Homo sapiens: one gene and its partners. The protein of the gene in region 3 purifies or fractionates together with the protein of the main gene of each other region. This does not show direct contact. Each region holds a gene or a part of one and is shown on either strand. Other genes may lie near its edges.

What was found.
Region 1: the proteins of IL36A (region 3) and TLK2 purify together in Homo sapiens (affinity purification with mass spectrometry; 2 studies listed by BioGRID and IntAct, with this or other methods). This does not show direct contact.
Region 2: the proteins of IL36A (region 3) and RNF20 purify together in Homo sapiens (affinity purification with mass spectrometry; 3 studies listed by BioGRID and IntAct, with this or other methods). This does not show direct contact.

What each region holds. Positions count from the first base shown.
Region 1 is NC_000017.11:62,476,793-62,480,539, reverse strand, and holds the start of TLK2 (serine/threonine-protein kinase tousled-like 2), read right to left. Parts: upstream 1,716-3,747; 5' UTR 1,250-1,715; intron 1,097-1,249; exon of another isoform or gene 1,063-1,096; coding exon of another isoform or gene 927-1,062; intron 1-926. UniProt on the Homo sapiens protein: Serine/threonine-protein kinase involved in the process of chromatin assembly and probably also DNA replication, transcription, repair, and chromosome segregation. Phosphorylates the chromatin assembly factors ASF1A and ASF1B.
Region 2 is NC_000009.12:101,536,737-101,540,483, reverse strand, and holds part of RNF20 (E3 ubiquitin-protein ligase BRE1A), read right to left. Parts: intron 282-3,747; coding exon 114-281; intron 1-113. UniProt on the Homo sapiens protein: Component of the RNF20/40 E3 ubiquitin-protein ligase complex that mediates monoubiquitination of 'Lys-120' of histone H2B (H2BK120ub1).
Region 3 is NC_000002.12:113,003,354-113,007,100, reverse strand, and holds the start of IL36A (interleukin-36 alpha), read right to left. Parts: upstream 1,643-3,747; 5' UTR 1,230-1,642; coding exon 1,220-1,229; intron 1,128-1,219; coding exon 1,014-1,127; intron 504-1,013; coding exon 364-503; intron 1-363. UniProt on the Homo sapiens protein: Cytokine that binds to and signals through the IL1RL2/IL-36R receptor which in turn activates NF-kappa-B and MAPK signaling pathways in target cells linked to a pro-inflammatory response.

The DNA of each region.
Region 1 (3,747 bases), on a different chromosome or scaffold from region 3:
AACCATCCACCTCCATTCACTCAGTAAATTAATATAGCTCCATAACAATCCCTTTAAAAAATCTTTTTCTGACCACTCCCTGCAGTAGTTTTCTCTTGATTCTGGACATCTGCTTTTAGCCCTTCTTCCAAGCAGGGAGGGGCAGGAGGACACCATTTTTAAACTTCCATAACCAATTAATGCACAGGCTACTTTCAGCAAATATGTTCATCCTTTGCAAGAGACCAACTCCTACACGACCCATTTAAAACCTCTCTTTAATATTAACAGTGGAAAAGAAACATATTACATAGAACCCCTTCGAACACATTATTAAGTAGTTGGAATGGTTGGTGTGATTTTAAAGTTACTGAAAAGATGAATCGAACATTCTCCTCTGCAATCCAACAACTCTACAATCTCCAGTAACAACCCCCTTACAAGTCCTTCAGTTTCATTTCCCTTCCTGGATTGAGAGCCTGGGGCAAAGGGGAATGAAAAGGTGACAAATTAAAGTTTCACCCACACATGCAAGTGCAGGTTAGAGAGAGAATTAGGAAATTCTCAGAAAGGTTGAAATGCATCTTTACAAAAAGAAAAAGAAGGAAAAAAAAGAGACTGGGAGAATGAGTTTCCCCCGTGGCCTTCCTCGCGTCTTGCCCTGCCCTAATCGAGGTCGGAATGGCAAAGGTTGCAGTCTCTCCCAAACCCCAAGGTCTCTCGCAACACTTCCCAAACCTCCATCCCCAGGCCCGGCCCGGAAAATGACGCCCCGGCGGTTATTCCGTTTAATGTCAACTCATGTTAAGGAAATAGCCACTCCGTCTAATTCCAGCGGGGCCTTGGACTGGGATCCTCCCTGCAGCCCACAGCCGGGAAGCAGGAGCGATGGGGCCTGGTCCCGGCGCCCCTCGCCGGCTCCAAACTTTCCCCAACTCCAGGCCCACCTGTCACGGAGGAAGGGAGGGCCGGCTCTCGGGGGCGCCCGGGAGGCTGCCGAGGCCTCCAGCTGCCTGGGGGCCCCCGTCTCTCCTCCGGCCGCCGGCCCCAATCCCAGGCCGGGGCCGCCTGGGCCTCCCCCATCTTCTGCCCGGCCCCTCAGCGACCCGCAGCCCTCAGGGAGCCCCTCCCGCCTCAGCGCCCAGGAGCTGCGGTCCGGAGCCGGCCCCGAGCTGGGCCCAGGTCGCAGGCTCCTCAGGCCAAAGGGGTCCCCAGGACGGTTAATGCCCCAGGCCTGGAGTCCTCCCCCGCCCGGGGCTCAGCCTCTCACCTGCCGCCGCCGCCGCCGCCGCTCCACGCTCCTCCCGGGAGGGGCCCCGACCCGACCCGGCTGCGGACCGCTCCGCTCTCCCCCTGGGCAGGCCCGGGGCGGAGCCGGGGCCTCTCCTGAGCGCCGCAACCCCCCGCCCGGGCAGCCGCCGCCGGCGCCGGGCTCCACGAGAGGGCGGGCGGGGGAGGGGGGGCACGAAGGCCGCAGATCCCCGGGCTCGCGTACAGAGCCAGGCGCCCGACGCGGGCCCGGGCCCGGGCGGCCGCGGGGGGCGCGGGACCGGCCTCCTGGCGCCGGACAAAGGCCAAGGGAGGCGCAGGAGGGCCCAGGCCGGGCCAGGAGGTGGGGGCCCGCTCGGCTGGGGGCCACTCGGGTGCGGCGCGGAGGGCGGGGGGGTCGGAACCGCTGGTGCCCAGGACCCGCCTCCGGCCCCTTAATCCGGATCGGTTCGGTCCGGATTAGTAGTGATCGGTGTAAACACACTAGTGAAACCGCGTGTTTCCTCGCGAGATTTGCACGGCTGGGAGGCGGGGGGGGTCCTGGGGGGGTGGGGGAAGCGCCGACAGTGGGGGAGCAGGGGGAGGGGACGAGGAAGGTGGGGGGGGGTCCCCGCTGCCCCGGCGCCCCGCCTTCTCCAATCAGCGGCCGCGCTGCCGGGCAGGGGTTAACCAGGGGACCCCGCGCCGGCGGAGGAAGCCGCGCCTCGCCGGACGGCTGAGGGCGGGCGACGGGCGGCGCCGGCTGACGGGCCGCAACGCGAGGGGAGGTCCGGCGGCCCGGGGCGCCCTGCGACTGCCCGAGGCCGGAGGCCCGGAGGACCCGCCGCCGCCTTTGTGTCGCCGGCCCCCGCCCCGCTGGACTGGCCCGGGCCGGGGCGGTTGGGCCGGCGCTGAAGGGGCTTGGCCGCCCGGGTCCACCCGTTCCCGGATCCGCCTCGCCGGCCCCCGCGCCCGCCCAACCCCTGCCCAGCCCCTCGGCTCCGCGAGTTTGGGTGAGAAGTGCGGCGGCTTTTCCCAGGGATGGAGTTTAGAGGACGCTAATCCTATGTGTGAGCGGCGGACCCCGCCCGGACTTCCCGGAGGCGCCCGGTTAGTGAGGCGACGGCGCCCACCCGCGTTCGCGGGCTCCCGGCCGCCACTCCCCGGAGCCGCCGGCCCGCCCCAGCCCCGCGCGTCGCCCGGGAGGGCGGGCTGCACTCCCTCCACGTACCTGGCTGGCAGAGCGTCTCCAGGGACAAAAGGTGCCCTGGGATCAAAGCCGAGCCCCCGCCCCCGCGGGGATGCTGCCCTCCGGAAGGAGGGGCGCTGCCCCCAAGGTACTCTCCCCGGGCACCCAGGGGGAGGTTCCATTTCAACCTCCGATGAAAAACACGGCCCTCCCGGGTACTTAGGAGGGTCTGAGGGTAAGTGCCAAGATGGAGAAAACACGCCGGCCCCTCACAGAGTATCTCCTGAGGAATGAGAACTATCTAGCGGGCAAGGAGGGCTTCCTGCATAGCAGAGGGCACCCCCTCTGATCCCCCAAGGCCAAGGGAAAAAAATCACTCTTCACCGGCGCCCCTGAGCCAGGACAGGCTCCAGTGCAGCCACCCACCTTATAATTTTCCGCGGATGCTGCCTTGATCAGATGTCTGAAGATGACTTTAAGGACTACAAGCAAATCTCAAGGGAAAAATTCAGACCTTGAACAACAGCCTTGAACTTTTTCAGGGTTAGACAAGTACTCCCCAGTGGAGTTTCTGCCCTTATTTCTTCGTTCTTCTCTTAATTCTTCCATATTTTAACAGAACACAGACCTGCCGAAACGACACAGGATGGCTCTTTGCTTTTTGTTAGTTCTCCAACCTTCCAAACCCTTGGGGCACATGCAAGCACTGTGGAAAAACTTCATTAAACCAAGAGTCATCTTACTCCAGATCCCAGACTGCTTGGGAAGTTGGACATGCATATTCCCAAAGAGAACAGTGTTGGAAGAAGACAGGAGAGCAGCTCGCGGGTTGGGGGTAGAGGGTAGGAAAAGAGGGCAAGATGGAGGACTACCACTCGAGGCCAGCCTCCACTGCCTGTTAGGGCGGTAGAACCTAAGAGCCGGTCCAAGGCAACACAAAAGACAGTGAGGCTAGGTCTTTAATTGCAGCCAACGATCAAGAAAGCAACTCCATCAAATGACACTGTCTTTTTAAAAAAAATTTTTTTTTTTTGAGACAGAGTCTCGCTCTGTCGCCCAGGCTGGAGTGCAGTGGTGCGATCTTGGCTCACTGCAACCTCTGCCACCCGGGTTCAAGCAGTTCTCCCTGCCTCAGCCTCCTGAGTAGCCGGGATTACAGGCACGCGCTACCAGGCCCGGCTAATTTTTTTTTTTTTTCTTTTTTGGTAGAATCGAGGTTTTGCCATGTTGGCCACGTTGGTCTCGAATTCCTGACCTCAGTTGATCCGCCCATCTCAGCCTCCCAAAGTGCTGGGATTTCAAGCGTTAGCCACCGCACTCGACCAAATGAC
Region 2 (3,747 bases), on a different chromosome or scaffold from region 3:
AAGGGTAGGTACAATTATGAAGAAACAAAGGACACAACTTTGGAAATGAAGAGAACAGTAAGGAGAACTAAATTGGTCAAATAAAAATCTGAACAAATAAACAAGTTAGCTACCTGACTCCAGTATCGGTTGACAATCAATAGTGAGGCATCATCAGTGGCCTGTCGTCGTTCCAGTTTTTCAATGTGCTCACGAAGTTCATCTTCAATGGCCTGCCGCTGATCCAACATTTCTGCCAGCTTGCGATTTTTGGTTTGCAGTGTTCTAATGTCTAGTTCCTCCTGCCCAGTAAACCAATCGTATTAGTCTCCACAAAGAAATAAGAAAAATGAGCCGTTAAACTCAACAAGGTCACAATTATTCATTAGTTATTTTCTATGAATAAAGCTATTGACTTTTAAAAAATCTTACAAGTAATTAAGAAGTAGAAGCAGAAGAGATAAACAACAGGTATATGATGGTGTGAGGAAAGAATAATACACACAAATACACCAGAACCTCAACCCATCTCGCTGTTCTAGTCACATAAACATCTACAAAGTAATGCTGCTTTAAGGCCACCATCCAGCTAGATCACCCTCGACTCCAATCAACACTGTCTTCTATCTCGTAAGCACCATCCTTCCTTCATTAAAGACTTCAGCACCTGGGTCCCTGTCTATCCCAGTTCCTGCCAATATATCTGGTGACTTCACCATACATGTGGACAAACCATCTAATCCTCTAGCATCTAGGCTGTCAGTTTTTCCAGTTCCTTCACTCCAAACATTATCTCCTCCACTGTGCTTCAGCCATGCACTTCAAAAGACACATCTCAGACTTTTGTCATTATCTGGAACTGTACCACATCTGAAATCTTATATTCCAACTTCCCATTCCCTGAAAAACACCACGTCTTTCCAGGTATCTCATGCCCTTAACCCAATATACCAATCCCTTTACCTCATCAAGATCTCCAGAATGTTGAATTCTTTTCTTTCTCCTTTTCGGTCTCCTTCTATCTCTGCTACCTTCCATATCTTAATCATATGCTATATAGTACATTCCTTCAAACACCTGCCTAACAGCCTCCTTGGTTCTCTGCCCTTAATCCTTTTATTCTATCTCTGTCAACAAACCCCAATCTGAATTAATCCAGTTATCTGGCTATTCCATTCCTGTACCCAGTATGCTGAGACTTCTAGAGAAGTTCATCAAACCACCGAAACCGGTGCCTTTACAAAATGAATTCTTAGCCTAAACAGATTTTATAATTTGTCTAGAAATATTTCTTTATCAAGTGAGCTATTTCCCATTCTCCAGCAAGGCAACATCAACCTCTACCAAACCCTGCCCCCTTTTACATCATACAAAACAGATGGCTTTACTTCCTATTTTAATGAGAAAATAGAAGCCATCAGATGGAAAACAATTCCCCATCTCTTTGACCCATTAACACAATTATGCACACATTCTTAAAACCTCAGCTTGTGCTCAGGATCCTGTTCTCTTCTGTCTCTACAAAACCCTCACTCCATTAGTAATTTCACATCCCTCTCAATATTTTTCTCTCTCCAGCTCCTTCCCTAGGACAAACCAGGGAGGGGTTGGTGGGAGGTGGGATTGGAGGATATAACAAGCAAAGAACCAGCATGTGGAAAAATAGTCTTACTTTTCTGAGGAATTAATGAAATCATTATTTTAAAGTGACAATTGTTTATTACACCACCAATTTTTGTTTCATTTTTCTCTTTTCCACTTTAATTAAAACATTCCTAATATGCCAAAGTAGTCAACAGTTTTCCCACTGTACCAGTTTATTAACACTATTAATAAACTATATCCTCAAACTCTTCTCTGAACATTGCCTTTCCCTTCTTGCTCTAACTGAAACTTGGATGAGAAACTGTTTCCCTGCAGGCTTCTCTAGTGGTGGCTGTTTCTCTTCCACACCCCTTGAAGCCAGAGAGGGATGAATATCCTCCTTATTTTCCATTGCCACTTCCAGGCCATTACCCCACCTTCCTCCCTAAAACCTCCTACCTCTGCAGCTCATGCCATTAGCCTATACCACCTGCCGCCATGCTCTGTTGAATTCATCTGTAAATGCCCACGTCGTTTCCTCACATTTCACAAAGACTTAGCACCTACCTTATTATCACTCTCCAATACTTTTCCTGTCATCATTCTTAATGATTTCAATACCCATACAGATAACCTTTCCTATACTTGAATCATCAAGTCACTGACCTCCTCTTCACCAATGATCTTGTCTTCTACCTCCTTCAGCCACCAACTCCCACATTTAGTCTTACTTGTACCTACATGTCCTCTATAAGCTCAATTTCAAACACCTCATTCTTCACAACTACCACTATTTTTCCAGCTCACTCTCTCCAGTTTCCTTACTCCAAAAATTCTTTAACCTCTCCAGGATCTACAATCCATTGGTCCTATACCTTTCACTTCTCTCACCTCCTTCTTTACTGAACTTAAATTCCATGATCAGTCATTATATAGTCATCTACTTTACAGCGATACTCCTTTATAAAGCATTGTCTCTACTCTCTTTTTCCTAATTCCTCTCCCCTCATATTCTCTTAAGCTCACTGAAAACAGGGTGCCATCCCCACTATTTCACCAACAAAGGTGTTTTGGTATCTCCAGTGAACTATTATTAAATATAACACCTCAGTCCTCCCTTTATTCCCCTTGTTCCAACTGAAACCTGAATGAGAACACATCAGCAGCACCTAATCAGCTCCTTCTTGAAATACTTTCTTCATTGAGCTTCTGGGAACCCATTCTCTCTTCCTATCCTCTTACCTCATTGGTCCCTCTTTGTTTGTATCTTTGATTAGTCCTTTCTCATTCCTTGACATGAAAATATTGTAGTGCCCCAGCAGACCTCTTTATGCTTATTCATTAAAGGAGTCTGTAGTCTCATAGATGTAAACACAACTTACAAAATGACGATTCCCAAATATACAGCTTTAGCCCAGACCTCTCTCTAGTATCCAGCTTATTAACTACCTATCCATTCAGAGGTCAAATAAGTATCTCAAACTTATATGTCCCAAACCAAACCAAACTCAATTCATCCTCCATGACTCCCAAAAATCTGCTCCTCTCATACACTTCTCTAGCTCAGTAAGTAAAAATTCCATTACTTTCAAAATCCTGGGATGATCCTCCCTCCTATCTTTCATGTGAGTTATCCAATCCATCAGCAGATCTTATCAATGCTACCTCCACAGTGGTCCAAGCCACCATGATTTCTCATTAAGATTACTGCAAAGGCCTCCTATAGCAAAAACTCTGTGCTAAGTCCTGTCAGCCTGCCAGATTTCAGCACAGCTGTGGTGGACAGCTCCATTTACACTGCCATTGTTCCCACTTCAAGCACACTTTGGAGACTCAGTTTTTCTGTCCCGCAATCACAGCTGGCTCCTAACAGCAATCTCAAAATGCACAGGAGGGACTGCTTTCAATGGCAACCTTCAACCAATTGGAGCGGGGATCAGTGGATACATGCCTCAGATCCCCACCTTTGGAGAGATGCAGTTATAGCGAAAGAGAGTAAGAAGAAGAAAAGAAAAAAGTCTGCTAGCTGGACTCTTGTTTATAATCCTTGCTTTTCTATAGTCTCCAAACACAAGTCAGAGCATGTTAGTCTCCTACTTAAGACTATCCACTAACTCCTCATTGCCTCTGGATAAAGTCCACACTGGGGTGTGTGCTATGTGCTTCCCATAAGTATGTGCTTAT
Region 3 (3,747 bases):
ATGTTTGTTCATTTAAAGTTGCAATGTATTTTTTGCCAAAAAGATGTTTTAATAAGTTCGTCTACTTTGTGATAATTAACTGCTAAAATGTCCTTGCTGATTTTACTCTGTGTGTGTGTTCTATTGAAGTTAGACATCATCCTTGCCAAATTATTAATATTTTTGTAAATTAAAATAATAAGTCATTTTAGTAGGTTTGTTTCAAAATGTCCCTGCAATTTTTCTTAGTCTTTCATAACATATACCAACCCCAAGGAAACCAAAAATAAAAATGCATGAGCATAATAAGTACATTGTCTTTTAAAAGATCCTGAAATCTGAGTTTCCATCAAATAAATGGCAGGACCTGTCTTCCACACTCACCTTCAGCTGCAGTGTGGGCTGGTCCCCGACTTTAGCACACATCAGGCAGAGATTGAGTCCATTCAGGCCCAGGTAGATGGGGTTCCCTCTGTCTTTCTCAAGGGTCTCCACATGTCGGCATGAGATTAAGGCAATAGTGACTGGGAACACGATGTGAAAAGTGGTGTTCAGCTGCCATTTCCAGGGTGGTACCTCTGAGCCAGAGTTTTAAGGGAATCTGCTAACTGACACTCACAGTGCACTCATAGAATGGTCACCTCACCACCCACCACCTAACCGGGACACCCATCCTATGTTTGGGGAACACTTTCCATTAGAAAAGTCAGTCTTTCATGGATTCAAAAACTGGTCCTCCCATAGATTACCCTCTTTTGTCCTACTCTTACTCCTTGAAGTTTCTCAGAATACGTCTTCCACTGTTTTTCATAGGCTGACCCTTCAGTCTCCCTTAAGCCTTCTCTCTCTTCTCTGACTTCATGACCATAGTCCCAGAACAACCTTATGCTCACCCTCTATTCATTATTGTCTGTGAGATGCTCCTCTCTGTAGATATGCCCGGTTAACAAGCCCACTGTGGAATAACATCTGAGCACCAAACACACAACAGCACTGGCCAAAGGAGCTGCCTTTCACAGACCGTGGCTACTCACCTGGAGACATACGGTCCTTCCTCGGGACTGCTATGAGCGTCTGGTCCTGAAGAACCCACACCCGATGATTGATATCCTGAATGCTCCCCTGCTGAGGTGTGTCAATTTTCAATGCTGTTGAGAAAGTCAAAATGTAAATTAGTAAGAATGAGAGCACAGAATATCACCCCCTTGTCAATTTTTCGCCCTTCCACGAGGATCTTTACCTTTTTCCATTGTGGTGGTGTTGTTTCAGAACTGCCAAGGATAGGAGTCCTTTTATGTGCAGACCGACCCCAAGAGAGGACCTGAGTCAGTCCCAAGCCACAGTTTAACCCTGGGTCAGATGAAAGACTGGCGGCCAGCCCAGCAGTGACCCCAGTCAGAATCTATACTCCCAGAACTCACCCAGCACCCTTACTTTGTTGGATGCAGTCTACCTCCAGCAGAAGCAGCTGCACCTATGAATCCTGCCCAGGCCTAGACCCAGGAACTCTAATATGACAAAGAGTGCCAAGGCCAAAGACCTGGAAGCAAAAAAAATCAGAGGTCACCAGACTTTCCAGCATAGGCCACACTGATAATCTGTTACGAAGGACCCTGTATCCCTACCATTATGAACAATGGCTTCTACTGCACTTGGGTTTTCTGACAGGCTGTAACAGGGCCCAGGCCTTTTATCCACATGGGCAAGGAAGGAAGTTCTGCCTCACTAAGTCTGGCACTGCCCAACACTCAGGATATTTTCTAGTTCCTGATGCCAGAGGATTTAGTGACTCTTTATGTGAACAGCATGGTTAAGACTTCTCCAAGCAACCTGAAACATGAGGGCATGCTAAACTTTTAAGAGCAGGAAATATAGTCACAGATACTGAGTTGAGAAACATTACGGGACTTCTTCCGGGTCAATGACTCATCTCTGATGCCACAAAATGAAACGATGGAATTATTCCTAAGAGTGGGAGCCCTCAGTAAGTGCAAGGTAGACTGAGGAGGGATAGGTCTCTTAAGACCTCTGTAGCTTCTAATCACTCCTGGTCCACAGGAACTATATTCTTGGTCAATTTCAGACCAGAAGCCCACTCACTCCAGTGACCCTCCTCCAGCTTCTCAGAGCCACTGTGCATGCTGCTTCTCCATGGAAGAAGGGAGTATTACTGTAGCAAAGCCAGCTCCTGAGCACTCTAGCCACCTCAATGGACTCTAGATCACTATCTCTAGTATAGGTAGCGTGATAGTAAATTTTAAGTGTCAATTTGACTGGTTTAAGGAATACTTAAAGAACTGGTAATACATTAGTTTGGGGTAAGTCTATGAGGGTGTTTCCAAAGAAGATTGGTGTGTAAGTCAGTGTACTAGTGGGGAACATCTACCCTCAACGTAGGTGGGATCCATCCAACTGGCCGGGGGCATGGATGGCATGGAAAAGACAGAGAAAAGGTGATTTTCTGTCTCTCCTGGAGCTGGGGCATTCTCTCCTGCCTTTGGACATTATAACTCCAGACTTTGGACTCCAGGACTTAATATCAGCATCTCCCTGGGTTCTCAGGCTTTCTATCCCAAAGTGAGAATTACACCAGTGGCTTCCTAGTTCTGAGGCTTTAGGACTTGAACTGAGCATGTTACCTGCATCCCAGGGTCTCCAGCTTGCAGGTGGTCTGTCATGGGATTTCTCAGCCTCCAAAATTGCATGAGTTCATTCCCCTAATAAATCCCCTTTCATACAAGAGGTCATCAAAAAGTTCATGGAAAATGCATATTATGAAAAAAACTATGCATGGATTTTGAATTATTTTGCACCAAAATAAACTCCTACTAACTTGTTATAAGGTGTTTGAACAGGATCTAGTTTGAGGCACTAAGAAAGGTAAGACATCAGTTTGAAAAGAGCCCCTATAAGATCAACATGAATTCTTCTAAAATTGAAGCAAGAACAAAAATCAAATTTATGGTGAAACTTGGGTGGAAGAATGGTGAAATCATTGATGGCTTATAAAAAGTTTGTGGGGACAATGACCCAAAGAAATCAGCAGTTTACAATGGATAACTCATTTTAAGAAGTGAGACAATATTGAAAATAGCACCTGCAGCAGCAGACCATCCACATCACTTTGCAAGGAAAAAACTAATCTTTTTGTGCCCTAGTTGAAGAGGACTGAATATTAACAGCAGAAATGATAGCCAATATCATAGACATCTTAATTGGTTCAGCTTACACAATTATGACTAAAAAACTTAAAGTTGAAGCACAATGGCTCATGTCTGTAATCCCAGAACTTTGGGAGGCCGAGGCAGGCAGATCACCTGAGGTCAGGAGTTCAAGACCAGCCTGGCCAACACAGCAAAACCCTGTCTCTACACAAGTTTGTCAGTTGACCCTGCAGAACCCACTTATACAAAAAGTCAGCCCTCTTCATCCACAGGCTCAGCATCCCTCAATGCTGGTTGGTTGAACCTGCAGATACAAAGTGCCGATTCTGTATGTGTGTCTGTGTTTGTGTGCATAAACACACATCCTAATGATTCTATCTCTCTGGAGGCTCCTGACTAATACAGCAGGAAAGGAAGCCTGGCTGCCAGAGGCCCCAGTGCTCTGAGCTCGCAGTACCTGACATTAGGTCTACACTAAAAGGAAGCTGAGGTAATACTGTTGATGCTCTGCTCCATACCTTCAACAACCTGAGTTCACAACTGCTGTTGGAGATCCTAGCATCTGTCAGCTTCACACCTCTAGGGCTTCCATCTCAGGGGCAAC